4 separate regions of the Homo sapiens genome follow, and all the other regions are linked to region 1. The links come from fine-mapping of genetic effects on gene expression. A gene starts in region 1. Each other region holds a variant in brackets. All regions are shown on one strand. Distances are from middle to middle.

Region 1 (7,850 bases):
AAACCACGCCACCTTAAGTACAATAAATATGTTATTACATTGAGTAGGAAAACATTTTCAAAATAAAAATCTCCACCAACCTTCCAAGAATGACTATAATCGGATCTCTTATTTATTTAATCCAATCATTCCATTTTTAGCACGTAAATGCTGACAAATTAAGGAACAAATTATATATATTGGCTTTTGAAAACAAAATGTACTTCTCTCTAGCACAATTAATTTGTATAAATAAGAAAAAACTAAAACAGCAAAACAAATAACAAAAAAATGTAACTTTATAGAATAAACTTGATTATAGACAAAAACATAAACAAGAGTTTGGCAGGCAGGGGTACATGATGTCAAGAACCACATGAAGTTTCTCTGCTTTGGTCACTGGTATTGGAAGAGTCTGGCAGGCAGGGACCAAGCATCTATTATCTGATATCCACTTGGCAGACTACATAAACAGTGAGACCTTGTGGCACAGCAGGAATTAGGTATTCCAACTACTACTTAAAGATCTACACTGACTCAGAGTGTGGCTACAACTCAAATGCTAAACTAAATGTGTGCCTCAGTTTCTCCACTGGAAATGTAATACATTATCTGCCCATCTCCTATCTTTAGAGAGGCAGCACTGCCAATTGGTTAAGAATACAGTCCCTAATTGGTTCAAATTTTGGCTTTGCCACCTACCAACTTTGGCAAGTTAATCTCCTTGTGCCTCAGTTTATTCAACTGCAAAATGGAGTTAACAATAGCACCTATCTCACAGGGTTGCTGTTAGGATTAATTAGAAAAATCTTATAGTGCCTGGCAAGTAACAAGCATTCCATAAACATCAGCTAGTATTATCATTATTTTAAACGAATGACAAGATTAACCAACTTAGTATACCTCTATTACACTTAGGAAATTACAGGCCCTAATTTTTTTTTGCTTTTTAATCATGTGGCTTAACTACTAACTGTTCTTTTTAATATAGCAAGTACACAGCCAATTAGTCCTGTAAAAAAATTCACTGTATACCCTGCCACCTAAAACGTATACATTCATCGAGTTTTAGTTAACTTTTCATCGCAATATAAGCGAACTCCCCCAACCAGTCATAAGTGACTTGCATCCATCCACTTCTACTTTCACAGTCATCACCATATTCCTTAACACCATTATTCTTACCTAGACTATCACAGTGGCCTCCCAACTGCTCCATTCCACTCTTCATGCTGTAGTAGGGAGCTCTTTTAAAAACCTAAATCTAATGTCACTCCTCTGCTTAAAAGCCTGCAATAGTTCCCCATTGTCCTAAACAAGTCCGATCTCCTAATGAGAACTAAGAGGCCTGCAAGATCTAGGGCCACCCTCCCGCTCTGGCTGCTCAGGCTATACAGGCCTTCTTTCACATCGGGCCTCAGAGCCTTCACATATCATGCTCCCCTATCTGGCGTAATCCCCTCTCCCCAGTACCCTAAGCAACGCCTAATCATCTCTGAGATCTCAGCTGAAAGGCGATGAGCGTCTGATACCCTAAACAGGATCAGGTCCTCCTATTACATGCTCTCATAACCCTGATCCTAATACTCTTTTCTGCATCACAAAATTAAACGGCAATAATTATTTAAATGGCTATTTAATACTGTCCTTGTCCAAAAAAATAGAAACACTTAGGAAGATTTGGAACCAAGTCTATCGTTTACTGCTACAACCCAAAGTGCTTACTTGCCAAGTATCTCATACATTGTAGGTGGGCTCAATATATCTATATTGCATAGTAGGAAAAGTGATGAGATCCACGATGGTGAAAAGTAGATCATCCAGAAAATCAGACTAAAGCAGAACACTGGCTGCACTGTATTAAATATGTAAGTTACCACAGGCATTACACTGAAGAGTAAAAACCTGCTTAAACATGGGCAAAATAAAGTTAAGACTGAACTTTCCAATGCAAAATTAAGTTTCTTTGTGCATCCTCAGGTGTTATGTGAAACTGGAGGAGTTCAACTTCAGTTACCAGTAAGAAGATACACAACTAAATCAAGACTGCTGCCACATTTGGCAACAACCTCCTCTCTTCTTGGCAGTAACTGTGAGGCCAAGAGTTGAGTTGGCCAGGGAAGAGTGATTTATCTTCCCACATTTAGAAGTGGTCCCTCTACAACAGGAATGCTGTACCGCTACTGGACTTTGAATTCTAACCTTGTCAAACCAGTACCTTCCCTAAGTATTCAAGTCACTTTTTAAAAAACAAGTTTAAATGGCATCGCAGTCCAATTCGACTTAGAGAAAACAAAGTTGCTCTTTCCAAAAAAAAAAAAAAGTCATTACTCTGGAAAATTAAAAGAAACTGACAGGGGGATGAATAAGGCGCTAAAGGCTGAGAGCTGTCGATGGAAGATGGAGGTCGCTCAGCATAGTATAATAACTACCACCGAGGCCTGGTGGGCAGCAGCTCCCAACCTAGAGCGGACGACCCCAGGTTGGCGTGAAGCAGGCAGGTTTGACAACACCAGACCCCTGCTGTCCGGTTCGTCGCGCTGACCCTGCCAACGCAACAAACGCCCAGACCTTCTCTGCACTATGGATGAGCAGTGTGGCCTGCTCTCGTTCTGCCCTTCCCTGGAAATGCGCGCAAGAAGGGAGGTGGCAAAAATCATGTCCACCGGGGGGGCTCAGGTAAGGGCTGGGGAGGTCTCGGGGTTAAACATTCGGCCCTTTGTTCACCAAGGCAGCAGAGCCCTTGGCGTCCGCAGCTCCTCCTCCCCGACTGCTCCCTGGCGCCAGCGTCTCCCGAGGACAGGCGGCAAGGGCTCGGACGCCCAGGCTTGGCTGCGGGTCGGGATCCCACGGCCTCGGCGGCGCGCGGCCCCTGCCTTTACCTTGTAGACGTCGCCGTAGGTGCCGCTGCCGATGCGCTGAATCAGCTCGAAGTCCTCCTGCGGGTTCCGGCGGGACAAATCGAAGCCGGGGTTCATGGCGGGCCCCAGGTGCCCCCCGCCTCCCTCCCGGGCAGGGGAGGGGGGCCGCTCAGGGGGCCACACGGAGAGAGGGCGCCGCGGCCGGCTCCCGGCTCCCCCGGCGGTCACAATCACCCGGCTCCACGCTGCGGCCGCCGCCGCCGCCGCCGCTCCCCTCACGCCGCTGCGGACGACGACAAGCGGCCAATCGTCCCCGCCCCCCGCGGCCCGCCGCCGCGCCGAACCTGGTCACACCCACAAGGAGAGGAGAACCCTCGCAGCCCCTCGCTCGGGGTGAAACTCCAACATGGCTTCCGCTTTCGCCGCTCCTCCCCCTCCCCTTACTCCGGCTCCTCCAACCTCCTCCCCTTTTCCCGACTCCCGCCCGACTGCGCAGCCGCGATCCCGGAGGGAGCGCGCCAGGCCTGGCGCGCACCCGACCCCTTGCGCGTTCCGGCTCCGCGCGCCTGCCAGGCCGGGGCCGGCGGCGGAACAGCTTGGGACCCGAAACGCCTCGGCTTTTCTGCGGACCCGCGCCCGGCCGCTGCCGCCGGACGCTTGAAAAGGTTTGCCTGGCCCAGGGACCGGGGTTAGGACTAGCAGAAAGTGGCTTCTTTTCGTTTCTGATTCCCCTAACGACAAAGTTGGACCTTGGTCTATCTGGTCCCAGTTCCAAGCAGGTAGCATAGTGGTAATATCCAAGACAGCCAATGTCCCAGCCTTTATTATTTTAGAAGCAGCTACATGTAGGATACCATGGAGTGCTGCAGCCTTTCTGGGATTGCGGGGAGGGGTCACTAAACACACCGTGAGGAAAACCCCCAGGAAAAGTGAGCTGTGCTTGCTTGCCCCTGTCACCGACACTCGGACCCTTGGAGTTGGCCTGCCAGGGTGCAAAGGAGGGCAGGCCAGGAGGGCCGCGAGGGAGGTGTGTGCAGTGGGCAGAGCGTGAAAGCTCCGGGAGGAAAACACGCGGAACAGCTGCCCACCATCCCGCGTGGGAGGCAGGCAGAGCGCAGAACTAAAGCAGTGATTGACCTCCCTCTTCGAAGAGGGTTGGATTATCAAAGACGGGCGGGGACTGCGCAGGCTGTCAAGCAACCCTGTAAAGAAGGGGTGGAGAGTGGACTAGATCTATTACCGCACCTGAAATATAAACACGTGACGATCCGGAAGCTCTTTAGCTGTGACCTTACCTACCCAAAAACCCCACCCTGCTTAAGACCCAGATTGCGCGTCTTACATCTGAGCTATGTGGACTCCAGCTCCGATTGTTAATACTTGCCCAAGAAAGCTTGAGGGTAATGGAAGGTTATTTTTCTGTTCTCATTGAACTTCCCAATAGACATTTGCAGGAGCTTTAATCAATTAGGTGATGGCCACTTTGGCAATACCACGTTGGAGTTTTGCTTCAGAAATGCTTTCCTAATCCCCTTAGGCACCACACCTTCTAACCACTAATATTCCCTAATACCTCGTGGCTCCTGAGAAACTAGGTCTCATCAAACCTGTTAAGGATAAGTATAATAAATTAATAGTAGAGCAAACTACTTAGAGTTAACTGCTTCATACTTTTTCAAAAAATCTTTTGAATCCTTTTGCTCATAGGAAAATTGCATATGTACTAAATTCTCAAATTGTTTACTTTGAGTATCTGTTGACTAAATTGATGTTTGAAAATGGTTATCTCTTCACCTATATAAGTAGCCTTTCAGTTGTGTAATTTTTAATTATTAAATTTTAAAGCATCAGTAATATGAAAGTATCACTTAAATTATTGCCTTAGGAGTGCATATCATTGAATATCTTCTCGATGGATCTACCTTCAGGCTCTGGTATCTTGAGAAACTCCTGACTATAAATGTTATTCCATAGCCAAAGGTCTTGCTTTTGCTTGTTTAAGGTACTTGCCCAGGACCCAGATTACAGGCCTTCCTTCAGTTTGTCCACATTTGGAGAATTGTTTGGCATGTTTAGGCCAAGCGCAAGAATAATTAGCCAAGGATTCAGATAAGCAGACCTGACAAATTATCCCAAATGGAAGCCAGGTCTGCTCTTTTCCTCTGCCTTTTTTTTTTTTTTTTTTTTGAGAAGGAGTTTCGCTCTAGTTGTCCAGGCTTGAGTGCAAGGGTGCAATCTCAGCTCACTGAAACCTCTGCCTCCCGGGTTCTTAGCGATTCTCCTGCCTCAGCCTCCCAAGTAGCTGGGATCACAGGCATGCAACACCACACCCAGCTAATTTTTGTATTTTTAGTAGAGATGGGATTTCTCCTTGTTGGTCAGGCTGCTCTTGAACTCCCGACCTCAGATGATCCGCCTGCCTCGGCCTCCTGAAGTGGTGGGATTACAGGCATGAGCCACTGCACCCGGCCTCTGCCTTTTTAGTGCCAGAAAGCCAAATTCTCAGGACTGAAAGCTGCACAAGAAAGTTCTAATGACTTCAGTGTTTTGTTTGCTGAGATTATCGTCTGTCCAAATAACTTTGCATTTGCATCACTAATAGACTGCTTTCAAAAGGAAAAGACATTTCAGTAGGGCTAGAACAGTCTTTAAAGTTTTGTCTGTTCCATTTTGGCAGGGCCAAGCTAGTCCTTTTGAGAAGAGATGAATTTCCATGTAAGGGCCTGATTTGCCATGTGGGTTACAACATAAGTAAAACAACTGCTCACAAAGAAAATATTTTGTTTTTTGTAATATATGCATGTGGCCAATTCCAGTGCCTTTTCCCCCTGTTCTAACAATCCTCAGTTTTGCTAGAAGTAACACTAATGATCACACTTTCCTAGAATCAGAGAAAGAGCTTCCCTCTTCTATGATTAGAAGCATTCTTAGAAGTCATCTAATCTTTTTAACTCAGGAACTGCTTCTACAGCATCTCTGCTGGATTTGCTGCTGCTTGAATACTTTCAATAAAAGGTGACTCATTGCTTCCCAAAACAACCCACCTCGTTGTGATACAGTGCTAGTAAATGATCATAATAACTAGGAGAAAAGTAGTAATTTCTAACATTGCTAAGTGCTTACAAGATACCAGGAATGGAGCCAAGTATTTTTCATGTGTTATTTCATTTAATTCGCACAACAACCTAATGACATAGGTAATATTATCTCCATTTTATGAGGCACAGACAGATTAAACTGCTCAAGGTAACACAGAAGGCTGAAATTTGAACAAAGGCAGTATGACACCAAGGCTAGATTCTTAGCCACTAGTCTATACTCTGCTTATATACAATATACTGTAAAAAATTTCTCTTATGGTAAGCCAACCTCTACCTCCCTGTAATGTATTTAGAGGCAATGATTATTAGATTCTGGTGGTATTGAATACAGAAAAGAAAAGCCACAATGCCTTCCCTCAAGGAGTTGACAGTCTCATAAATAGTGTGAGAAGCACAGAGAAGGGACATTAATGCAGACGGGAGGAAGATTTAGGAATGACCCCTTGGCTGGGCGCAGTGGCTCATGCCTGTAATCCCAACACTTTGGGAGGCCGAGGCGGGTGGATCACCTGAGGTCAGGAGTTCAAGACCAGCCTGGCCAACATGGTGAAACCCCATCTCTACTAAAAATACAAAAATTAGCTGGGCGCGGTGGCACGTCCCCTGTAATCACAGCTACTCGGGAGGCTGAGGCAGGAGAATCACTTGAGCCGGGAGGTGGAGGTTGCAGTGAGCTGAGACTGCACCATTGCACTCCAGCCTGGGCAACAGAGGAAGCGTCCGTCTCAAAAAAAAAAAAAAAAAAAAAAAAAGGAATAACCCTAAAGCTGAACCTTGAAAAATGCATAGGCAGACAAGGGAAAGTGGTGCATGACAGGCTGGCTGCTTAGCGCCTTGAAGCACCTACCCGTTTAAGCATCACACAGCAAGGAACACAAGAAGGCCAAGATAGGCAGCAGTCCCCACCTGCCAGCATGTCCAGGCCATCCTTCTATTGCCCCATCCCCCATGGGTTTCTGGCTTAGGAACCCCTTGATCCCCTGCACAGGCTCCCAATTTCATCCTCGACCTCTTGTCTGACAACTCACTGGAGCCCCTTCTTTGGCCTATTAACCTCAGCCCTCCTCATATAACATAACCACCACTCACATTTTCAGTACATTAGCTGCTCTGGAAACAGGATACTGAGCAAGCCTTAGCTCAAAAAAATGCCAGAAGCAGGTCATCCACCAGGGGAGGAAAATCACACAGAGAGCATGTATGTGAAATAATATGGCACATACAACAGACAATTGTGCTTAAATTCTGAAGACAGAGGGAGATGGTGGCAATGGAGCTAAAAAAATCAGGTTTCTTTTTTTAATTAAAAAATTTTTATTTATGGCCAGGCGCTGTGGCTCACACCTCTAATCCCAGCACTTTGGGAGGCCGAGGCGGGTGGATCACCTGGGGTCAGGAGTTTGAGACCAGCCTGACCAACATGGTGAAACCCTGTCTCCACTAAAAAAAATACAAAACTTAGCCGGGAGTGGTACCACGTGCCTGTAATCCTAGCTATTCCGGAGGCTGAGGCATGAGAATCGCTTGAACCTGGGAGGAGGAGGTTGCAGTAAGCTGAGATTGCACCACTGCACTCCAGCCTGAGTGACAGAGTGAGATTCTATCATTAAAAAAAAATTATTTATGTATTTCATTTCTCCCCAGCTTTAAATTGAGGCATAATGGGCAAATAAAAATTGAATGTCTTTACAGTGTACAATGTGATGTTTTGATATATGTATATGTTTTGAAATGATTACTACAGACCAGCTAGAAAAATTTACTTACAAAATTCAAACATGCTTAAGAAAAATTTATACTTTTTTTAAAAAGTCAGAAACTGGCTTGTGAGGAGCTGGTTTTCAGGTGGGTTATCATATGTTTAAGCTGCAGAGACTTCCAAAAGGTTATACAGCCTTACCTAGTACAG
Region 2 (7,850 bases), 34 kb after region 1:
AAGGGCTTCCTTGAATTGTCTTCATGGTTTTGTGAGAGGTGTGTGAACCAGAGCAACTCCATCTTGAATAGGAGCTGGGTAAAATGAGGCTGAGACCTACTGGGCTGCATTCCCAGACGGTTAAGGCATTCTAAGTCACAGGATAAGACAGAAGGTCGGCACAAGATACAGGTCATAAAGACCTTTCTGATAAAACAGTTGCAGTAAAGAAGCCGGCTAAAACTCACCAAAACCAAAATGGCGTCAAGAGTGACCTCTGGTTGTCCTTACTACTACACTCCCACTAGCGTCATGACAGTTTACAAATGCCATGGCAATGTCTGGAAGTTACCTTGTATGGTCTAAAAAGGGGAGGCATGAATAATTCATCCCTTGTTTAGCATAATACGCCCCTTGTTTAGCATATCATAAAAATGGGCAACCAGCGGCCCTCAGGGCTGCTCTGTCCATGGAGTAGCCATTCTTTTATTCCTCTACTTTCTTAATAAATTTGCTTTTGCTCTGCACTGTGGACTTGCCCTGAATTCTCTCTTGCGCAAGATCCAAGAACCCTCTCTTGGGGTCTGGATCAGGACCGCTTTCCTGTAACAGTCCCCAGGCACAGAAACTCTGAGGGAATCAGACACTTAGTTGTCTTTATTGCTCCCTCTTCAGTATATAGAACAGAGCCTGGCACACCTAGGTGCAAAATAAATATTTCTTGCATGAAAGAAGTCCACAGTGCAGTCACTGGCTTTTTTAGATGGTTAGCTCACTAGAATTTCATTTTTTTTTTCTCCTCCTCCTTTACAAAAAGTTTTCAGACAGACTTTGGGCCTGCTGGGGCATTTTCAAAAGACAAATAGTCCTGCTGCTGCTCCAGAGGACCCACCGCCCACCTCCCAGTCAGAACTATGTCTCTCTGTTCTTGTTGGAAAGGGGGACACAGCTTGCTTTGCAAGAAACTTGCATAGGAAATGGTGCAATCTGGGCTGTTTTTCATCTTCTTTCAACCTAATTTCCTAAGTTAAAAGAAAGAGAAATTTAAGGAATCTTAGGAATATGAAACTTCTCTGGAATGATCTTTACTGAGCTGTGTTTGGAATCAGCTGAAATCCTGAAGGACTGTCAAGCCAGCCAAGAATAAAAGAAAATAAAAAATAACTTAAACAATCCTAGCCAAAATCTGAAAATGATATCTAGAGCAGCTGCTATTTTTTTCTTTCCCAGAATGGTTTGCCTTTCCCCCAGTTTGTAATTGTTATAGGATTGTTTTAGGTTATTTTGGAGTAGAAAAGAAGAAAGAAGGAAGGAATCGAGTGTTTTGGAAGTAGTATGATGCGGTTAGTTCTACCTTTTAAGCTTTATAATTTACACAGCTGTTGTACACATGTGAACTCCCTCTCATTAGGATGCTGCTGACTGGTACAGGAAGTTTTTATTCATGGCATTCTCCTTAGGAGTTTGTTTATGGCATTTAGGTCCTCTCCTGCCTTCCCTCCCCACCCCCACCCCAAATCAATCTATATTTGTAATTTATGGATGATCTCTCCAGGGCTTAATCTGTGGGGTAAAAGGCTGTCTTATCTGCTCTACATTTACTGAAAAAGGGTGCAAGAAAAACCGTATCTAGCTGGCCAGATGGGTAGGGAACACTTGGTTGCACTAAAAATTTTCCAGCAATGGTATCCCCAGCTTGCCCTTTTGCCCGAATAGTGCACAAAGTCAGCAAGCATTTCCCCTGAAGTGTCCACCTCCACACGGCCAAGACTGGCTTGGCTGGTTACCAGAGGCACTGAGAAGATTGAGGAGGCAGCTTATAGAATACTTTGCTTGCATCCTCGTTCTCATCCCATTGTGAGGTAACTGCCCCACAACTGAGCTAGATAAGAGAAAGGAACTGAAACTGATTTGCCCAAGGTCAGTCTGGGTGGATATTGAGCCTAGAATAAAGCACAGAATAGCTGCACCTGGGGCTGGCCCAGGGCATGCTCAGATGAATCACTGGCTTCACCAGAAATGCAGCTAGTCTGGAATGCAGTGCAGGGGCCCAGATGCCTGACACTGAACAGTAACTTAGAAAGGGGAAGGTCTTTTCCTACACATAGTGAAGCTTCAAGGAATCTTTAAGAAAATCACATAAGAAAGATGAATAAAAACTTTTTCTTCCTCCTACTCCTTCAACCCCTATTTCAGGTTCTTCCTTAGAGCAAACACTGATTTCAAGTTGGAGTGTGTCTTTTCATCTTTTTAGTTATTTATATATCTTTATTGATCTATCTGTGTACATACATCTGCATCTACATATGTGTGTATATGTATCTATCTATCTATCTATCTATCTATCTATCTATCTATCTATGTATCTATCTATCTATCTATATCTATACACAGACAGAGAGAGAGCCAGTGAGGGAATTTTGCTTTGTTTTGTTTTGACTGAAATGGTATCACACAGTGGATTGTTCTTCAACTTTGCTTTTTTTTTTTTTTTTAAGTTTAGCCATATCTCTCAGAGATTTTTCTGTGTCAGTACATTTTAGTTTTTTTCAACTGCTGCATGCTCTCACATAAGTCAGATGCATCACTAAGTGTCAGTCTTTCGATGATCATTTAGGTTGCTATGCTATCAGTTTTTACCACTATAAATAGTACTATAGTGAAACAACCTTGTACCTGCTTCCTTTTTGCACATATGCAAGTATCTCTCTACAGTGGATACCAAGGTGTGAGATTGCTGGGTCAAATGATAGGCGCATCCAAAGTGTGAAGGATTGCTGCCAATGTGTACTCCAAAAAGGTTGGCCAGTTTATATTCCCAGGAATACGGTAAGAGAATGTCTGTTTTTCCAGATGCTTCCCAACACATCAGTCTTTCTTATTTATTGTCAATCCAATGTATAAAAAATAGCATCCTCTTCTTTTTGTTTCCCCCCAAAACCAGTAAGACTGAGCATCTTTTCAGATGCTCGTTTGCCATTCATGTTCCTTCTTTGTGAATTGCTTATTTATGTTCTTTGCCCATTTTTCAATTTTGTCTTTTTTCTGGGGACATATAAAGGCAAGTCCTTTGCTACATACATTACAATACTTTCACCCAGTCTCTCCTTTGGATTTGAATCTCATTTTGTTGAACAGATGTAAAGTTTTGATATAGTAAAATTTATTAATCCTCTTCTTTATGACTTTGGTATTTTTTGTATTGTTTCAGGAGGCCTTTTCTACCCATGGTCATAAACATGGTCTCACTGCAATTCTGGGAAATACAAAATTTTTAAATGAAGTATTTTTATGGTGGTCCAACCCCCCATCATCTGTTTGTCTGAATTACTGCAATAGCCTCTTAACTAGTCTCCCTGCTTCCTTCATCGCTTCCTTATAGTCTGTTCTCAACACAACAGCCAGGGTGATTCTTACAAAACAGTCAAATCATGCCATTTCTCTGAATCAAATCCTCCAATAGCTTTTCATGTCACTTCAAGCCAAAGTTATGACAACGGTGCCACATGCATCCTCTGCACACCATGACCTTTTTCACCTCATTACCTACTACTCTTTTCCAGTTCTTGACACATACTAAGTTCTCAATAAATATTGGTAGAATTCATAAATAAATTTTATCCCCATTCATTTCGGGTAAAAAGTATTGAAAATGTTGGCATTGATATGGGGAAGCTCCCATACACTGCTGGTAGCAGTGTAAATTTGTACAAACCTTTACAATTTATAAATACTTGAGGATGAGCAGATCCTTCCCCTAGGCAATGCTCCTTCTAAGTATACACTCTAGAGAGGTTATTTTATGTGTGCATAAAGAGACTGTAGGAAAATACTTATTATAGCCTTGCTTTTAATGGTAGATGGGAGGAAGGAAACAAAGAATGAATGAATGAAGAAATGGTCAGAGGACAATTTATCCTAATAAAATATATACAAAATTTACTAACTCATGAATGAATGTTTACTTTTGTAGAATGTCTTTTTTAAAAAATTCCATAGAGGGTTTTTTTTGTGTGTTTTTCTGTATGTAGGCAATATTATGAACAAATATATAGATATTTTCTGATGTCAAAACATTCTTATATTCTTGGGGTAAATTCTATTTGGTTATGAGGTATTTTTATTTTTTAAAATACATTCTTGAATTTAATTGACTAGGATTTTATTTAGAATTTATCTTTTCCTAAGGTTTCTAATTAGAGATATAGGGTCTTTTATTTTTTTCTTTCTTTCTTTCTTT[C/CT]TTTTTTTTTTTTTTTAAGTGAAAGCAGTTTGTTAAGAAAGTAAGGAATAAAAGGATGGCTACTCCAGCCGGGCGTGGTGGCTCACACCTGTAATCCCAACACTTCCCAACACTTTGGGAGGCCGAAGCAGGCGGATCACGAGGTCAGGAGATCGAGACCATCCTGGCCAACATTGTGAAACTCTGTCTCTACTAAAAATGCAAAAATTAGCTGGGTGTGGTGGCACATGCCTGTAATCCCAGCTACTCGGGAGGCTGAGGCAGAAGAATCACTTGAACCAGGGAGTCACAGGTTGCAGTGAGCCGAGATCACACCACTGCACTCCAGCCTGGTGACAGAGTGAGACTGCGTCTCAAAAAAATAAAAATAAAAATAAAAAATAAAATAAAATGGAATGGTTACTCCATAGACAGAGCAGCCTATAGGATCTTTTCAATTCAGTTTATAAGTGAGTTTGGTATGTAATATTTTTACTGCCATTTGTTTTGGGTGTTAGGGCTACCCTAGAATCATAGAGTGAATTGGATAGTACCTCCTTTCTTTCCAATTTTACAAAGTAGTTCCTGTATGATAGCTACTATTTCTTAATTGAAAGCTTGATAAAACTCATTTGTAAAAAAACATTTGAGGCCAGGCTCGGTGGCTCACGCCTATAATCCCAGCACTTTGGGAGGCCAACGCAGGCAGATCACCCGAGGTCGGGAGTTCGAGACCAGCCTGACCAACATGGAGAAACCCCGTCTCTACGAAAAATACAAAATTAGCCAGGAGTGGTGGTGCATGCCTGTAATCCCAGCTACTTGGGAGGCTGAGGCAGGAGAATCGCTTGAACCTGGCAGGTGGAGGTTGCAGTGAACCGAGATCGGGCCATTGCACTCCAGCCTGGGCAACAAGAGTAAAACTCCATCTGAAAAAAAAAACAAAAACACTTGGGCCTGATATTTATTGATAAGTAATAATTTTGATTGATTGTTGTTTGATCTATTACTGATTTTTTTAAATCTATTCAGGCTCCCTATTTCTTCTTGAGTTTATTTTGATAATTTGTATTTGTTTAAAAACATTTCTACTAAATCCATGTATACAAGTTTATTAGCATGAGGTTGAAAAATAACATTTTCTTTCTTTCTTTCTTTCTTTTTTTCCGAGATGGAGTCTTGCTCTGTCGCCCAGGCTGGAGTGCAGTGGCGCGATCTCGGCTCACTGCAACATCCACCTCCCAGATTCAAGCAATTCTCCTGTCTCAGTCTCCTGAGTAGCTTGGATTACAGATGCTTGCCACCACAACCATCTAATTTTTGTATTTTTAGTAGATACGAGGTTTCACCATGTTGGCCAGGCTGATCTCGAACTGGCTGGTCTCAAACTCCTGACCGTGTGATTTACCTGCTTCGGCCTCCCAAAGTGGTGAGATTACAGGTGTGAGCCACCGTGCCCAGCAATATTTTCTGAAGAATTAAAAAGCTTGTATTTGTAGCCAGGCACGGTGGCTCATGCCTGTAAAACCCAGAACTTTGGGAGGCTGAGGTGGGTAGATTGCTTGAGCCCAGGAGTTTGAGACCAGCTTGGGCAACATGGCAAAACCTCCTCTCTACAAAAAATACAAAAATTAGCCGGATGTGCTGGCACATACCTGTAGTCCCAGCTACTCAGGAAGCTGAGCTGAGGAGGATCGCCTGAGCCTGGAAGGTTGAGGCTGCAGTGAGCCTAGATGATGGCACTGCACTCTAACCTAGAAGACAGAGTGAGACCCTGTCTCAAAAAAAAAAAAAAAAAAAGTTGTATTTATAAATTTTACTTGAATTGTTTATATTACCTTTTCTTTCCTAATATTTTTGTGCCTTCTCTTGTCTTTTTGATCAGCCTTAATAGAAGTGTGTCAATTTAATTAGTTTTTTCAAAGTACAGTGGTCCCTTGGTATTTGTGGGGGATTGGTTCCAGGACACACTTGCATACCAAAATCCAAGGATGCTCAAGTCCTTGATGTAAAATGCCATACTATTTGCATATAGCCTGCACAATTCTCCTGTATGCTTCAAATTTTCTCTAGGTTACATAAAATACCTAATATGATATAAATGCTATGTAAATAGTTGTTATGCTATATTGTTTTTATTTGCATATTTATTGTTGTATTGTTATTTTTTATTTTTCAGAATATTTTCTGTCTACAATTGGTTGAATCTGTGGATGTGGAAACTGCAGATACAGATGGAGAGCCGACTATACTAGCTTTTTGTTTCATTTTTCACTTCTGGTGTGTGTGTGTGTGTGTGTGTGTGTGTGTGTGTGTGTGTATCTGTGTGTGTGTTTTATTAATCTCTGTGCCTGCATGTTAGTTTCTTCCTCTTTATTTGGATTTTCACTAACATTCTTTTCAGCTTCTTCAGTTGGATACTTGTTGCCAATATATTTTTTTTCATTCTAAGAATTAAATAAATGGGCCAGGCGTGGTGGCTCATGCCTGTAATCCCAGCACTTTGGGAGGCCAAGATGGGTGGATCACAAGGTCAGGTGTTTGAGACCAGCTTGGCCAAAGCTGGTGAAACTCCATCTCTACTAAAAATACAAAAATTAGCTGGGCATGGTGGTGCGCGTCTATAATCCCAGCTACTCAGGAAGCTGAGGCAGGAGAATCACTTGCACCCAAGAAGTGGAGGTTGCAGTGAGCCAAGATTGCGCCATTGCACCCCAGCCTGGGCAACACAGCGAGACTCCATCTGAAAAAAAAAAAAAAGAATAAATGAATGTATTAATCACCAAACTGCTCTTCATCAGAAACTCTTAGCAGTGGTATGTTGAGGTCTCCCTGCCTACCGTATATGTCTCTTAACTCTGCGGGTGCAATATTTTGTCATGGGTCAGTTTAGCAATATTGTACTATTTCCCAATTTTCTAAGTGTGTTCATTTCAGAGTTTATCCTATTCATTGTTCTTTCTTTCTTTTAAAAATTTCTATGACTGAGCTGGACATGGTAGCTCACACCTGTAATCCTAGCACTTTGGGAGGCTGAGGAGAGTGGATCACCTGAGGTCAGGAGTTCCAAACCAGCCTGGCCAACATAGTGAAACCCTGTGTCTACTAAAAATACAAAAAATTAGCTGGCCATGGTGGCAGGCGCCTGTAATCCCGGCTACTAGGGAGGCTGAGGCAGGAGAATCTCTTGAATCCATGAGGCGGAGGTTGCGGTGAGCCAAGATCATGCCATTGCACTCCAGCCTGGGCACCAAGAGTGAAACTCTGTCTCAAAACAAAAAAAAACTTTTCTATGACTGTATTTTTAATTCTCAGGATTTTAATTTGTTATTCTTCATAATCATAGCTATTTTATTTCTGACGGTTCGTGCTTCATAATTTTTATGAATGTTATTCCTCTGCTTAATTCCTTTGAAAGTCTTGAACAAATTCTTTTTAAAGAAGTAATTTTCAGATACTCTAGTATTTTGTTTTTACCTGGTGTGAATGCTTCTCCATGTTGTGGTTTCTATTTTTGGCAGTCTTTCTTATTTCTCTCCCTCTCTCCTTTTCTCTGTTCCTTCTTCTCTTCCTTCATTCCTTCCTTCCTGTCCCCCTAGGCTTAACCTTCCTGGTCTCATAGTTTTGCCGTTACCTACTTTCTGGGCCTCCC
Region 3 (7,850 bases), 52 kb after region 1:
CTATGGCACCATTTGGGGCAGCAGCCTAGATGGTGCTGTACTTGGTGGGGGACAACCCCTCACCCCCAAGCATTTTGCTGCTTCTCTCTGGCTGACGTGTTTCCCTTTTAATGTGTACTATAAAAGAAAAGAAGAGGAAGAAAGAGAGAGGAAGGGAGATGAGGGAGAGTGGGAAGGAGAAAAAATATTAATTTTTGTTCTTATGTGAAATTAACGTCTTACTTGCTTTGTGTCTCCTCTTACCCAAGTTGGCTGCAGTGATGCCCTCTCTGACACAGTAGGTCAGAGACCCTGAGGTTCGTTCGTTCTTTCTTTCTTTCTTTCTTTCTTTCTCTCTCTCTCTTTCTCTCTTTCTCTCTCTCTCTCTCTTTCTCTCTCTCTCTCTCTTTCTCGCTTTCTCTCTTTCTCTCTTTCTCTCTTTCTCTCTCTCTCTCTCTCTCTTTCTTTCTTTCTTTCTTTGATGGAGTCTCACTTTGTTGCCCAGGCTGGAGTGCAGTGGCACAGTCTCAGCTCACTGCAACCTCCGCCTACCGGGTTCAAGTGATTCTCCTGCCTCCGCCTCCTGAGTAGCTGAGATTACAGGCACACACCACCACGCCCAGCTAATTTTTGTATTTTTAGTAGAGATGGGGTTTCACCATGTTGGCCAGGTTGGTCTCGAACTCCTGACCTCAAGTGATCCACCTGCCTCGGCCTCCCAAAGTGCTGGGATTACAGGAGTAAGCCACCATGCCCGGCCCTTCATCCTATTTTGATGTCAGAGACCACGTATGGATATAGTGCTGGATGCTTTATTTACCAACTTGAGCCTTTAATTTTGCCTCTGAAATGAATTATTTATTAGCAAATACATTAACATAACATTTTTCATTTGGAGGCATGCTAAACTGTTGACCTTTTTCGTAAAGATTCTAAGGGGGCTTGAAAAGGAAAAACCTAGAAATTTATAAATACTGAATAGAGTGTCCATCCTTCTTCACTTTGTTTCCTAGTAGCGCTTTCATCCTGTCACAAATTGGTTCAGCAGCAGAGGAGTTAATATGCACAAGCACTTTTCTTTGTCATAGGACGACATTCCATTTGAGTCCTTTAAGGATGTGCTGGAAAGGGAGTGGGGAAGTTACACCGCAAATATTATCTTCCCCAGATGCAAACAAGTTTCTTTACTAGTAGAACTGGAAAATATGTGCCACTTGCTAATTTTTTACTTCTAAACTTTTGTTAGGCTGTTAAATTTGGTGAATAATACCATGAATTATTATTATAAAGATTAGCACATCTATTTACAATAGAATATTTCAAACAGACAGAAAAGCATACAAAATAATATGACAAAAAATCATCTATCTACAATCCAGCCCTAAGTGCTAGATAGTATTTCATGTAATAAAATTTTGCCATATTTGCTTCAGATCTCCCTTTTTCCCTCCCTCCCCCTTTTGCCCTCTTCCTCCCTCCCTTTTTTCCCCTTTCCTCTGTTTCTTCCAAGTTAAAACCTTTTTTTCCTCAACAAGCCACCAGAAGTGCTGACAAAGTTAAAATCATATAGATGTAGTTAAAACCCCTGAAACCAATCTATCTCATTCCTCTCTTGTGATCTGCAGGGTGACAACTACCCTGAATTTAGAGTTTTAATTCCTCTGTGTATTTTTATATTATTTAAAATTTTTTTTAATAAGAGCTGGAGTCTTCCTGTGTTGCCCAGGGTGAAGGGCAGTGCCTATTCACAGGTGCAATCCACTATGATCAGCACAGGAGTTTTGACCTGCTCTGCTTCCCACACAGGTGGGTTCACCTTTCCTTAGGCAACCAGGTAGCCCTCTGCTCCTGGGAGGTCACTATATGATGCCCAGAACTAGTGGGCTCAAGCAATCCTCCCGCCTCAGCCTCCCAAGTAGCTGGGTCTATAGGCACACACCACCACACCCAGCTATTTTTTATATTTATACTATATATGTATCCATAAGACATAAAGTTGATTTGCAAGTTTTTCATCATTAAATGATATATTATGCGCTTTCTTCTTAATCTCTCACTCAACATGTATTAATACTCATCTTTTTTTTTTTTTTCTAAACAGTCTCACTCTGTTCACCAGGCTGGAGTGCAATGGTGTGATCATGACTCACTGAAGCCTTGACCTCCTGGGCTGAAGCAATCTTCCTGCCTCAGCCCTGCAAGTAGCTGGGCCTACGGGCACACGCCGCCATGCCTAGCTAATTTTTGTATTTTTTGTAGAAACAGGGTTTCACATGTTGCCCAGACTAGTCATGACCTCCTTAGCTCAAGTGAGCCACCTGTCTCAGCCTCCCAAAGTGCTGGGATTTCAGGTGTGAGCCACCATGGTTGGCCCCTAATACACATCTTTTTTTTTTTTTTCTTTTTTTTTTGAGATGGATTCTCACTCTGTCTCTCAGGCTGGAGTGCAGTGGCACGATCTTGGCTCACTGCAGCCTCTGCCTCCCAGGTTGAAGCGATTCTCCTGCCTCAGCCTCCCGAGTAGCTGGATTACAGGCGCTTGCCACCACGCTCTGCTAATTTTTGTATTTTTAGTAAAGATGGGTTTTGCCATGTTGGCCAGGCTGGTCTTGAACTTCTGGTCTCAAGTGATCCGCCCTCCTCAGCCTCCCAAAGTGCTGGGATTACAGGTGTGAGCCACTGCGTCAGGCCAATACACATCTTCTAGTTTATTTAAAGTGCTAGATAGTATTTCATTGTATAAAAAGACCACAGTTTATTCATTCTTTTGTTGATAGATCTTTAAATTGTTTCCATTATTTTTCCCTTACAAACAATGCATGATAAATGTTTTTGTATGTGTCTCCTTGTGAGAGTTATATATCTAGGTGTGACATCACTGGGTTCTATCACAAGTCTTTGGAAGTAATTTTTATGTGGATAGTGCAACAATATGACTAGTTACTTAAAAGAAAAAAATTAAGTCAAGATAAGTGGCGGAAGACACAGAAATTCAGAAATAGGATGTAAAATAGTAATGGAATAGTAGGTAAATTAGATACATAATCCTATGCCTTTTTTTTTCTTTTTGAGACGGAGTCTCGCACTGTCGCCAAGGCTGGAGTGCAGTGGCGCCATCTCGGCTCACTGCAAGCTCTGCCTCCGGGGTTCACACCATTCTCCTGCCTCAGCCTCCCGAATAGCTGGGACTGTAGGCGCCCGCCACATGCCCGGCTAATTTTTTGTATTTTTACTAGAGGCAGGGTTTCACGGTGTTAGCCAGGATGGTTTCAATGTCCTGACCTTGTCATCCGTCCGCCTCAGCCTCGCAAAATGCTGGTATTACAGGCATGAGCCACTCCGCCTGGCGACAATCCTATGCTTTTTTAAAAAGGTAGTTCATCTTTTGGCTGGGCATGGTGGCTCATGTCTGTAATCCCAGCACTTTGGGAGGCTGAGGCAGGAGGATCACTTGAGGTCAAGAGTTTGAGACCAGCCTGACCAACATGGTGAAACCCTGTCTCTACTAAAGGTACAAAAATTAGCTGGGTGTGGTGGTGCACACCTGTAATCCCAGCCACTTGGGAGACTGAGGCAGGAGAATCACGTGAACATGGGAGGCGGAGGTTGCGGTGAGCTGAGATCACGCCATTGTACGCCAGCTTGGGCAACAGAGCAAGACTCCAGCTCAAAAAAAAAAAAAAAAGGGAAACATTAATGAAAAGGTAATTCATCTTTTGAAAAAAAAAGTAGAGTGAACATACTGAACATCACAGATTTTCATCTACATTTAAGATGCTAGCTTTAGGCTGGGCGAGGTGGCTCATGCCTGTAATCCCAGCACTTTGGGAGGCCAAGGTGGGTGGATCACCTGAGATCAGGAATTCGAGACCAGCTTGACCAATATGGTAAAACCCTATCTCTACTAAAAATACAAAAATTAGCTGGCATGGTGGCGTGCACCTGTAGTCCCAGCTACTTAGGAGGCTGAGACAGGAGAATTGTTTGAACCTGGGAGGCGGAGGTTGCAGTGAGCTGAGATTGGGTCACTGCACTCCAGCCTGGGCAAGAGAGTGAAACGCTGCCTCACAAAAAAAAAAAAAAAAAAAAAAAAAGATGCTACCTTTAGTGTCACTGCTTCTGTGAAGCCTTCCAAAAAT[T/C]GCCTTTTTTTCAATTACTTTCTCCTTTTGACCTCCATTCTCTCTACCTCTGTTATATGATATTGTGCATTATATTTGCTGTGGTTTGTTTATATCTCTCTCAGCAGGCTGAATGTGTTTTGAAGGTGGAGTTCATGTCTTATTCGTATCCCCAGGGTGTGGTGTGCAGTTGGTGGTTAAGTCTGAGGAATGAATGAATGGCCCAAATCACCGAAGATCTTTCAGAGGTGGCAGTGGGGTTTCTTTTTTTCTTTTCGAGATGGAGTCTTACTCTGTCATCCAGGCTGGAGTGCAGTGGCACAATCTCAGCTCACCGCAACCTCTGCCACCCAGGTTCAAGTGATTCTCCTGCCTCAGCCTCCCGAGTAGCTGGGATTGCAGGCACGCACCACCACGTCTGGCTAATTTTTTTATTTTTGGTAGAGATGGGGTTTCACCATGTTGGCCAGGCTAGTCTTGAACTCCTGACCTCAAGTGAACTACCTGCCTCAGCCTCCCAAAGTGCTGGGATTACAGGCGTGAGCCACTGTGCCCACTGGCAGTGGGTTTCTGATGATAGGATAGTTTCATGAAAGTTAGCTTAAAGTACAAAAAACTTTTTTTTTTTCTTTTTTTGAGACAGTCTCATGCTCTGTCCTCCAGGCTGGAGTTCAGTGATCTTGGCTTACTGCAACCTCTGCCTCCTGGGTTCACGCCATTCTCCTGCCTCAGCCTCCTGAGTGGCTGGGACTACAGGTGTGCACCACCACGCCTGGCTAATTTTTTGTATTTTTAGTAGAGACAGGGTTTCACCATGTTAGCCAGGATGGCCTCGATCTCCTGACCTCGTGATCTGCCCGCCTCGGCCTCCCAAAGTGCTGGGATTACAGGCATGAGCCACCGTGCCCAGTGAAAAAGCTTTGATCCTTTGTCTTCAATTGCACCTATGAAAAGGAAGTTTCGTATAAAAGCTGATATAAATGGCTAATAAAGCAGAGAAATAGCTTAAAATTTGACTGTAGACATTTGCTATGTATGATTAATATGTATCAGTTTACAGTTAATTTTAGGAAAACTTAAATTTTATAAATTGCCAAGAAATCACCCATGAAAAACTAATTTTCACTTAGCGGTTTAATTTTTTAACATTAGGATTTTTAAGTTTCGCTAGTCTTATCATCTGGGACACTGGAATTTTGTCTTGTTGGAATTGCTGATTAAACAAAATAATTCTTCAAAAGTGCTTAGCACAATGTTAGGTAAATAGTAAGCACTAAGTAAACATTGGCTTTATTATTATTAGGTGGTCCTATACTATGATTCCTCCTATTTATATCACGTGTGTCTTGCTGCATATTTAAGGACGCTCCCATCTATATGTTTGGACTAGTGCAATAGTAAAGCTGCCAGCTCAGGTGAAGAAAACCATTTAAAAATTTAAAGTTAAGCACATGATGGAAAATTCTTGAATATGTGGTGAGTTAGGTATAAAAAATATAGGGGGATTGTATTGTTGAATACAAAAAAGCCATTAGACTATTTTAAGAATGCTCTCTTCTGTCATTAGGGCTTGGTTATGAATAGTATATCACATGCATGAAAGGAGGTGGTGGCTAGTTTCATTTCCCTAAAACATGTTTCAATGGTAAATTAGAGGCAGCTGTGGTTTACTGACGCATAAACCCAGTGAGGTCTATGATAACTAGTATATATTTACAGTTTGACTCATGGTGCCTGTCAGGCTTTAATCATAGGGGAAGAAGTGATAGTACTTAGACTTCACTGTTTAATCTTCCGTTCATTTGTTTTCCAAGTTTGTTTCAGTCTGTGGGCAGGTTCCCTTTTGATTGCAACATGCAGTCCCTATTTCTGCAGTTTATCTTCATTTGCCATTTTGAGAGGGCTATGAAAGTCCTATGATAAGCTCCTTGTTCTCCAAATCCATGCATATAAGTCTCATCGAGTTGGATGCATTCTAAAGACATTTTGAAATCACATCAACACTTTCAGATCAGCAAGTTATTTCTTAATAAATTACTGTCTTAATGTTAGATGCTATTTTAAAAACACGAAAGAGAGCAGTTTCCAAATATGTGTTACTACTTCCAGGGAATTGTAAACTGGAGTGTTTAATTAAAAGAAGGCCCTAAATTTTTATTATGCTGTCACTGGATATTTGAATAACTAGCTGTAAATGAGTTCTAGTTGTACAAAAGTGATTTTCTAAATCCAGTTGTCCCTATTTCAAAATATAGTTCTAGTTCCTGGGTGAAACTGAAAATGAAATGGCCATGTCTTTATAACTAAAACAAATTAGAGGGTTGCAGCAATAAAATGAACCCACAGAGGGGAAAAAAACCCTTTGAATCAGGTTTTTATTTTCTTCTCCTGAACTGATTGGGTAATTTACTCAACTAATTTTGTCTAGTCATTAGGAAGTTAATACTCCATTCTATAATTTCCTTCCACTCAAGTGAGCAATACTGGTGCATATAATTTGGATTAAGAACATTCCTCTACTCTTACAAATATTTGGATATATGCCTTGAATATGCTTCCTCATTTAGGCCACAGAAATTTATTCAAAGACAAATCAATCAAAGATAATAACATTAACTACTATTTATTAAGCATCTCCTTCATGACAAGACTTTTTCCCATATTGAGATATAATTGACAATTGAAAATTGTACATATTTAAAGTGTACAACATGATGATTTGATATGCATATATATCCATGCATATATATCCATATCCATATCCATGCATATATATGGATATATATGCATATATATGCATATCAAATCATGTCGTACACTTTAAATATGTACATATTTCAATTATGCATATATATGCATATATCCATATCAAATCATATATATATAATATGCATATATATCATATACATATCCATCACCTCACATAGTTACCATTTTCTTTTGTTCTCTCTCTCTTTCTTCCTTCCTTTCTTTCCCTTCTTTTTTATTTTTTGGTGGTGAGAACACTTAAGATCCACCCTCTTAGCAAATTTCAAGTATATAATATAGTGTTGCTAATTGTAGTCACATCGTTGTAGAATACATCTCCAGAATTCATTCATTTGGATAACTGAAACTCTGTAACCCTTTTCCAATATCTCCCCATTCCTCTATCCCTCCAGCTCATGGCAACCAACATTCCACTCTCTGCTGTTCTAAGTTTGACTACTTTAGTTTTTACATATAAGTGAAATCAACACAGTATTTGTTTTTCTGTGTCTCGCTTAGTTTACTTAGCTTAATGTTCTTCAGGTTCATTCATGTTGTAAATGACAGGATTTCCTTTTGTTTTGAAGGCTGCATAATATTCTGTTGTATATGTATACCATATTTTCTTCATCCATTCATCTGTTGATGGACATTTAGGTTGTTTTCATATCTTGGCTATCATGAATAATGCTGCAATGAACGTAAGAGTAGAGATATCTCTTAGAAATCCTGATTTTCCTTTTTTTTTTCAGACAGTCTTGTCACCCAGGCTGAAGTGCAGTGGCATGATCTCGGCTCACTGCAACCTCCGCTTCTTGGGTTCAAGTGATTCTCCTGCCTCAACCTCTGGAGTAACTGGGATTATAGGCATATGTCACCATGCCCGGCTAATTTTCTTATTTTTAATAGAGATGGGGTTTCATCATGTTGGCCAGGCTGGTCTGGAACTCCTGACCTCAGGTGATCTGCCCGCCTCGGCCTCCCACAGTGCTGGGATTACAGGTG
Region 4 (7,850 bases), 71 kb before region 1:
AAAGCACAGGCAACAAAAGCAAAAACAGACAACTGAAATTCCACCACTAAAAAGCTTCCGCACAGCACAAGAAACAGAATTAAAAGACTACCTATGGAATGTAAGAAAATATTTGCAAACCATATATCTGATGAGGGGTTACTAGGCACTCCTACAATGCAACAGCAAAACAAAACCCACCAAATAACTGGATTCAAAAACGAGCAAAGGGCTCGGCGCAGTGGCTCATGCCTGTTATCCCAGCACTTTTGGAGGCCGAGGTGGGTGGATCACCTGAGGTCAGGAGTTTGAGACCAGCCTGGCCAACATGGCAAAGCCCAGACTCCACTAAAAATACAAAAAATTAGCTGGGCATAGTGGCAGGTGTCTGTAATCCCAGGTACTTTGGAGACTGAGGTGGGAGAATTGCTTGAACCCAGGAGGTGGAGGTTGCAGTGAGCCAAGACTGTGCCACTGCACTCTAGCTTGGGCAATAGAGTGAGACTCTGTCTCAAAAAAAAAAAAAAAAAAAAAGAGCTATGGTTGAATGGGTGATGGATATATGAAATAGCTTGATTTGATCATTTCACAACATACATATGCATCAGAATACCATGTTGTAAACTGTAAACAAACAGTATACAATTTTTGTCATTTATACAGTAATCATACTGGGGATTTTTTTTTTAAGAGCAAAGGACTTGAACAGAAATTTCTCAAAAAAAGATATACAAATGGCCAACAGATCTATATCAAAAGATGCCCAACATTACTGTCTTCAGGGAAATGCAAATCAAAAACATAATGTCACTTCTCACCTGTTCAGATAGCCATTATAAAAAAAAAAAAAAAAAAGAAGACAATAGCAAGTGTTGTCCAGGATATGAATACCCCCGTCCACTGTTGATGGGAATGTAAAATGGTGTAGCCACTATGGAAAACAGTACAGAAGTTCCTCTAAATATTAAAAATAGAAATGCAATATGATCCAGCAATCTCACTTGTGGGTATATACCCCAAAGAACTGAAATTAGAATCTCAAAGAGACATTTGCACTCCAGGAAGCAGAATGGTCATGGCCAGAGACTGGGGGAAGTAAGAATTAGGAGTTGCTGTTCAATGTGTAAAGAATTTCAGTCACACAAGATGAAAATATTCTAGAGCATAATGTATAACATAATGGTTATAGTTAACAATACTGTACTAAATATTTAAATTTGTTAAGAGAATAGGTATCATGTGACGTGTTTTTACCACCATTGATAAAAAGAGACAAACTCTAAAATATTTGAAGAGATTTATTTTGAGCCAAATATGAATGACCAGTGGTCTGTAATACAGCTCCAAGAGATCCTGAGAACATGTGCCCAAAGTGGTTGGTTTTACACATTTTAAGGAGACATAAGACATCAATCAAAACGTGTAAGGTGGGCCAGGTGCGGTGGCTTACGCCTGTAATGCCAGCACTTTGGAAGTCCAAGGTGGGTGGATCACCTGAGGCCAGGAGTACGAGACCAGCCTGGCCAACATGGTGAAACCCCATCTTTACTAAAAATACAAAAATTAGCCAGGCGTGATGGCATATGCCTATAATCCCAGCTACTTGGGAGGCTGAAGCAGGAGAATTGCATAAACCCAGGAGGCAGAGCTTGCAGTGAGCCAGGATGGTGCCCCTGCACCAGCCTGGGCAACAGAGAGAAACTCTGTCTCAAAAAAAAAAAAAAAAAAAGATAATGGGTAGCAGAGACCAAGGTTTTATCATGCAGATGAAGCCTCCAGGTAGCAGACTTCAGAGCTTTTGTCAGACCTATGAAGTGCCAGACTCAGTTAATTCTCTCCTGGATCAGGAAAAAGACCTGGAAAGGAAAAATGAATCCTCTATAGAATACAGATTTCCCCCACAAGAGACGGCTTTGCAGGACCATTTCAAAATATATCAAAGAAATATACTTGGGATAAAATACTTCTATTTCTTTCAGGGCCTGCTATCTGTCATGTGATGCTATACTAGAGTCAGGCTGGAATTCTGTGTCTTATTGCTATAAAAAGTCTGTTCACTAGTCTTAAGATCTCTATTTAAATGTTAATGTTGGTCAGCTGAGCTTGAATTCCAAAGGGAGGAGGGTATAATGAGGATGTCGGAGTCTCATTATGATGGTAACATCATGGCCTGAACTAGTTTTTCAGGTTAACTTTGGAATGCCCTTGGCTGAGGAGAGCCTCCATCAGTCGGTTGGGGGGCTTAGAATTTTATTTTTGGGTTACGCCATAGTAATTTTTTTTTTTTTTTTTTTTTTTTTGAGACGGAGTCTCGCTCTGTCGCCCAGGCCGGACTGCGGACTGCAGTGGCGCAATCTCGGCTCACTGCAAGCTCCGCTTCCCGGGTTCACGCCATTCTCCTGCCTCAGCCTCCCGAGTAGCTGGGACTACAGGCGCCCGCCACCGCGCCCGGCTAATTTTTTGTATTTTTAGTAGAGACGGGGTTTCACCTTGTTAGCCAGGATGGTCTCGATCTCCTGACCTCATGATCCACCCGCCTCGGCCTCCCAAAGTGCTGGGATTACAGGCGTGAGCCACCGCGCCCGGCCCATAGTAATTTTTAAAATGTCCTATAGCCAAGAGAAAAATGTAAGCTTAGACTACGAAAAATCAACAAGGTTTCTCATGCCATTGTTATGGGTATTTCACTCTCAAATCTTCCCATTTCCATTCTATTTTAAACACAGAGAAGTGAGAACACACATCTACGTTACATGTAAAAGTGTTTTAAAGTCAATTTCAAATTAACTTTTAATTTCATGTGTGGTGTCATTCAAAATACATAATTTCTAAACTCCATTTCATATGGTAGAAACAATAAATGAAATTAACAGTACTTCAGTTGTTCGTGAAAGGAGTCAAACTCTGTAAAATATTTGAAGAGATTTATTCTGAGCCAAATATGAGTGACCAATGGCCCATGAAAGAGTCCTCAGGAGACCTGAGAACATATGCCCAAGGTGGTCAGGGTACAGCCTAGTTTTATACATTTTAGGAAGACCTGAGGCATCAATCAAATACATTTAAGATTTACATTGGTTTGATCTAGAAGGGTGGGACAGCTTGAAGCAGGGTGGTGGGGTGGGGGTGGAGGTGGTGGCTTCCAGGTTAGAGGGAGATTTTAAAAATTTTCTGATTGGCAATTGGTTTAGAGTTATCATCAATAGAAAGGAATGTCTGGGTTCTGATAAGGGGTTGCGGAGACCAAGGTTTTATCATGCAGATGAAACCTCCAGGTAGTAGGCGTCTCTTCAGACGTAAATGTTTCAGA[C/T]GAAATTTCAGACGAAGAAATGTTTCTCTTGAGATGTAAGATCTGTACTGATGTTAATACCAGTCAGCTTTCCCTGAATTCAGAAAGGGAAGAGGGCGTAGTTCCACCTCTGCTTCCATCATGGCCTGAATTTTTCAGGGTAACTTCGGAATGCCTTTGGCCCAGTGGAGGGGTTCGTTTAGATGGTTGGGAGGCCTTGGAACTTTATTTTTTGGTTTACACAGTAATCTATGGCTAACATTCCAACTTCTCTTAAGTTGTCAATTACTGTGTCAAACTACTGGAGTACCAGGAAATACTCTGAAACACTATATTAAATTATCAGGGTATCTTGAAACCCACTGGCTAATCTTTAAAAAGATAAGAAATTGGCTTAAGTAATTACAACATAAAATTAGAAAAAACTTTTCTAAAACCACAGAAGCAGCACCCAACTTTGAATTTTTGAAGAAATATTAAAGCCCTGATCAATAACACAGAAATACAAAGGAAGTATCTAATAATCCTATTGATTCCTACTTATTTCAAAACAAATGAAAAAATGATTAAAACAGCAATATTTGTATTTTTTTCAGAAATGAGAATGAAGAAAACAACCCTTCAAATACTTCACCTGATAAAAATAACTTAGAGTCTATTTATTTGTTTGGCTGTATTTTAGTAAGTGTTCTTGATTAATGTTTAAGATAAGTATCACTTACATTTACATACATTGTTACTGAATGGCCTTTGAACTTGGGTTCCACAAAGCCAAGTAGAAATTCCCTTGCTCAAACTATCTAAACAAAAAAAGAAGCCAGGCACAGTGGCTCACACCTGTAGTCCCAGAACTTTAGGAAGCTGAGGCAGGTGGACTGCTTCAGCCCAGGAGTTTCAGACTAGCCTGGGCAACATGGTGAGACCTCATCTGTAGAAAAATTAAAAATAAGCTGGGTATGGTGGTGTGAGCCTGTAGTCGCAGCTACTTGGGAGGCTTAAATGGGAGGACTGACTGAGCCTGGGTGGTTGAGGCTGCAGTGAGCTGTCACTGTGCCACTGCACTCCAGCCTGGGTGACAGTATGAGACTCTATCTAAAAAAACAAAAAAAGAAAAGGAAAAGGAAAAAGAAAAGAAAGAAACCATGGCCCTGGCTCCCTAAAAAAAAAGTCTTACTCTAGAGCTGGGCATGGTGTTGGAAGCCTGTAGTCCCAGATATTTGGGGGACTGAGGTGAGAGTTTGATCCAACCTGGGCAACATAGTGAGACCTCAACTTTAAGATAAAAAGAAAAAATGTCTACCCTAATGCTGTGTTTCCCAACTCTGTTTTCCTAATGCCTCTCCCCAAGAAATTTTAATACCACAGATATTCTGCATGTTTATGTATTATGCATATATACATACATATATCTGTGCTTTGTACATAAAAAGAATTAAGATTTTTTTCATCCCAAAGAACCAGTTCCACTCCTTTCTTATTTTAAAGGAATATTTGAGAAAACATTCTCTAGTGCAAATGGATTGTGTCCAGGTAGTCAGGGAAGGAGGGCTTAACTTGAGCTTCCTGACCTATAAACCTGTTTGGTCTCCTTTTCTTACCTGGATCCAGCTCTTTTGAGAGCCAGGTTTACCCGAGTGGTTCTGATGGAAGGCCCAAAATAAGGAAGGTACCCGTAACTCAGGACTGAATTTCTAGTGAAAATCCTCTGGAGTATATCGCGCCCCCTGCCTACTAAAAATTATGGCAGCAACCCTACAGTTTCTATATGTAAAGTAAGTATTATAGTAGACTCAAAAAATGTTTCTGGAGTAAGGACAGAAAAAGGAAAAATAGAGCACGGTGTAGATTTTAAGGGAAGTGAAGAATACAATGGGCAAAAAATTTTCTGTTTTTATCATGCCCACCAACAAGAACAATGACATATTGTTTAAAATAGTTTTAGCTGGACACAGTGGCTCATGTTTGTAATCTCAGAACATTGGGAGGCCAAGGCAGGACAATCACTTGAGGCCAGGAGTTTGAGACCAGCTTGGGCAACACAACGAGACCCAGTCTCTACAAAAAAAACTAAAAAATTAGCTGGGTGTGGTGATGCACACCTGTTAATACCAACCAGTAGTGAGGCTGAGGCAGGAGGATCGCTTGAGCCCAGGAGTTGGGGCTGCAGTGAGCTATGATCACATCACTATACTCCAGCCTGGGTGACAGGGTGAGATCCTGTCTCTAAAAGAAAAAGAAAAAAAAAATCCCAAAAAAGAAAAAAAGTTAAATAAAATAGTTCTAATTTTGGACGTTTTTAATTTCTCAACTTTCTGTTCTCTCACCAGATCTGATTTAAAGATAATTTTTTTTAGCAGCTCCTGATCTGTTCTTGAGGTTACATAGGCATAAACCACAGCTGTATAAAACTCATGAAAATGAGTTTCTAAAATCAAAACAACAAACCTATTCTTCCCATAAACTCAATTTTTACATATATCGTACCTCTCCCTTATCCCTTGTAACCTATCAATCACGTTTTAAGTTCTATCCACCCTAAAATCTCATGCAGTCACCCCTTCCTTCCCTCTGCACATAACTCAAGCATGGCTGTCACAACAGTAACATGTCTTCTCACCAGCAGGGCTTCTCTCCCATCTGCCTGTGTACACTGAATCTGCCTACAGTTATACTCTGACCATGTTACTAACCTGTAAAAACAAACGAAATCCCACTGTTTTACAGGGTAAAATCTAAACCTTTGGGCTAGTTTTTTTTTTTGTTTTTTTTGAGATGCAGTTTTGCTCTGTCACCCAGGCTAGAGTGCAGTGGTGTGATCTTGGCTCACTGCAACCTCCGTCTCCCAGGTTCAAGTGATTCTCCTGCCTCAGCCTCTCAAGTAGCTGGGAATACAGGTGCGAGCCACCAAGCCAGGCTGATCGTGAACTCCTGACCTCAGCTGATCTGCCCGCCTCGGCCTCCCAAAGTGCTGGGATTACAGGCGTGAGCTACTGGGCCTGGCTGCTTTGGGCTAGTATTTAAGGCTTTCCATAAACTATCATCAGTTTTCCACTTCTTATTTCCCACCATGCTCACATAGAGCATACTACTCTAGACAAATCAAACTACTACTTCCAAACAGGCCTAGTACTTTCATACTACCTTTGCTTTTATACTATCCTCATGTGGAATACCCTCCATTCTCTTATTCTACTAGCAAAATCCTAGCCAGTCTTGAAGGCTCATCTGAAGTTTTACTTCCTTATCCCAAGGGAAGTGGAACTCACAGCTTCTATGGAACCCACCAAATATAAGTTAGGCTACATCAGCCACTCTGCACTATGTGTATTCTTTCACACAGCATCCTACCTAGATATTCCCAACCCAGAGTATTTCGGAGTAAATAGTCAAAGGCGGATCTTCAGTGACCCATGAATTAAGTCTTTCTAGTCACAGCCATCACCGTTCCTTACTGCCAGCACCACCACCTACATATGCACACACACTCTGCTCAATGGGTTCTCCGTAGTTAGGCTGCTACTTACATAAACATTCTAGTTTTCACATTGGATAACAAGTTACTGGAAGGCAGGAACCATATCTCCGTATCTTCCTTCTAACTAAATTAAGTACTAAATAAACATCCTTGAAGCCAAATCACTGGTCATAAACAGAGGACTGAGAATAAGAAATACACTGCAGATAAACAAAACAAAAAGTCCTTTGTCAGTTGCTTTTTTATTTTGGAGCATTATTACCTTTCAATGTGTAAATATTCAATCTCTCCAGCTCAGTCAGCCTCAAGTCATAGTATGATTCTAATAAATTTAAGAGTGACTAAGCTATCCATGATTAACCTTTGAAGAATAATTATCATGAATGATGTAACAACTACTCTATTCATGATGGCGATAAACACAAGGCAGCACTGAATAAGCACATGGTGGCAAGGGATCCACAAAAACACTCAAGGGAGATGGGAAAAGGCACCAGATAAATCATATCCCCAATGTTTCGCCACTCTATGATGAAAGATAAGGAGGCAGAAAGCACCTCTACTACCTCTCAGGAAAGAAAAAACTAATGTCAAAGGCTGGCAGGAGAGAATATTCCATAACATTTAACTTTGGAGGTCCATGAAAAAATAGTGGAATAAGGTCTTATTGGTACTTTTTTGCACTTTTAAAATTTAGCTTTACAATTTAACGCATGTTGCTCTCACGGAAACAAAGCATAATACCCTATTTTCTCACTACAAGTTTCTCTGTTTATCAACCTCAGTAGTTTTCATTGTGTTGGAAAAGGAATGAGTTTCCCCATTTAGAAGAGTTTTTCCTATGAGTTGCTACCTAATGAATCACTGTTATCTATCTGCATTTGTATCATATTATAATAACTAGTGCTGCAAACAATACCACAAATGAGTATAAGTAACTTTTAAATTCTGACTTTAAATCACAAAAAGATTCCAGATCTATAACTTATTTATATAATAACACCTTATCAGAACTTGAAAATAAAGCCCCAAAGAATATATATATAAATTCTATTCTACTAGCAAGCTCTGCCATAGCTCTCATCTTGATCCATTTTTAATTTTTTT

Direction of the effects. Alleles are on the strand shown, and positions count from the first base shown. SD is a standard deviation of normalised expression in the study named. Not every link is listed here.
For the expression in lymphoblastoid cells of the gene that starts at base 3,386 in region 1, allele C in region 2 goes with a lower level than allele CT (moderate effect, 0.63 SD a copy in TwinsUK).
For the expression in breast of the gene that starts at base 3,386 in region 1, allele T in region 3 goes with a higher level than allele C (small effect, 0.21 SD a copy in GTEx).

What was found.
Region 2: its variant is fine-mapped to the expression of MAP4K3-DT in lymphoblastoid cells (TwinsUK, PIP 0.95).
Region 3: its variant is fine-mapped to the expression of MAP4K3-DT in breast (GTEx, PIP 0.95).
Region 4: its variant is fine-mapped to the expression of MAP4K3-DT in whole blood (TOPMed, PIP 0.97).

What each region holds. Positions count from the first base shown.
Region 1 is chr2:39,434,031-39,441,880 of GRCh38, forward strand. It overlaps MAP4K3-DT (MAP4K3 divergent transcript), which reads left to right and starts at 3,386. Exons shown (of 6, transcript NR_037875.1): 1 at 3,386-3,505. MAP4K3 (mitogen-activated protein kinase kinase kinase kinase 3) reads right to left here and starts at 3,255. Exons shown (of 34, transcript NM_003618.4): 1 at 2,862-3,255. The coding sequence starts at 2,957. RefSeq lists an enhancer at 2,449-2,528 and silencers at 2,859-3,218, 3,289-3,508.
Region 2 is chr2:39,468,150-39,475,999 of GRCh38, forward strand. The region is part of intron 3 of MAP4K3-DT (MAP4K3 divergent transcript); the gene reads left to right. Among named protein-coding and RNA genes, the nearest start is that of MAP4K3-DT, 35 kb to the left of the region's middle. RefSeq lists an enhancer at 1,358-1,858 and a silencer at 2,711-2,760. The variant C/CT (reference allele first, on the strand shown) is at 4,220.
Region 3 is chr2:39,486,513-39,494,362 of GRCh38, forward strand. All of the region lies in intron 3 of MAP4K3-DT (MAP4K3 divergent transcript), which reads left to right. Among named protein-coding and RNA genes, the nearest start is that of MAP4K3-DT, 53 kb to the left of the region's middle. The variant T/C (reference allele first, on the strand shown) is at 4,119.
Region 4 is chr2:39,363,177-39,371,026 of GRCh38, forward strand. All of the region lies in intron 2 of MAP4K3 (mitogen-activated protein kinase kinase kinase kinase 3), which reads right to left. Among named protein-coding and RNA genes, the nearest start is that of MAP4K3, 70 kb to the right of the region's middle. RefSeq lists enhancers at 955-1,521, 1,522-2,088, 2,089-2,655 and a silencer at 6,109-6,282. The variant C/T (reference allele first, on the strand shown) is at 3,290.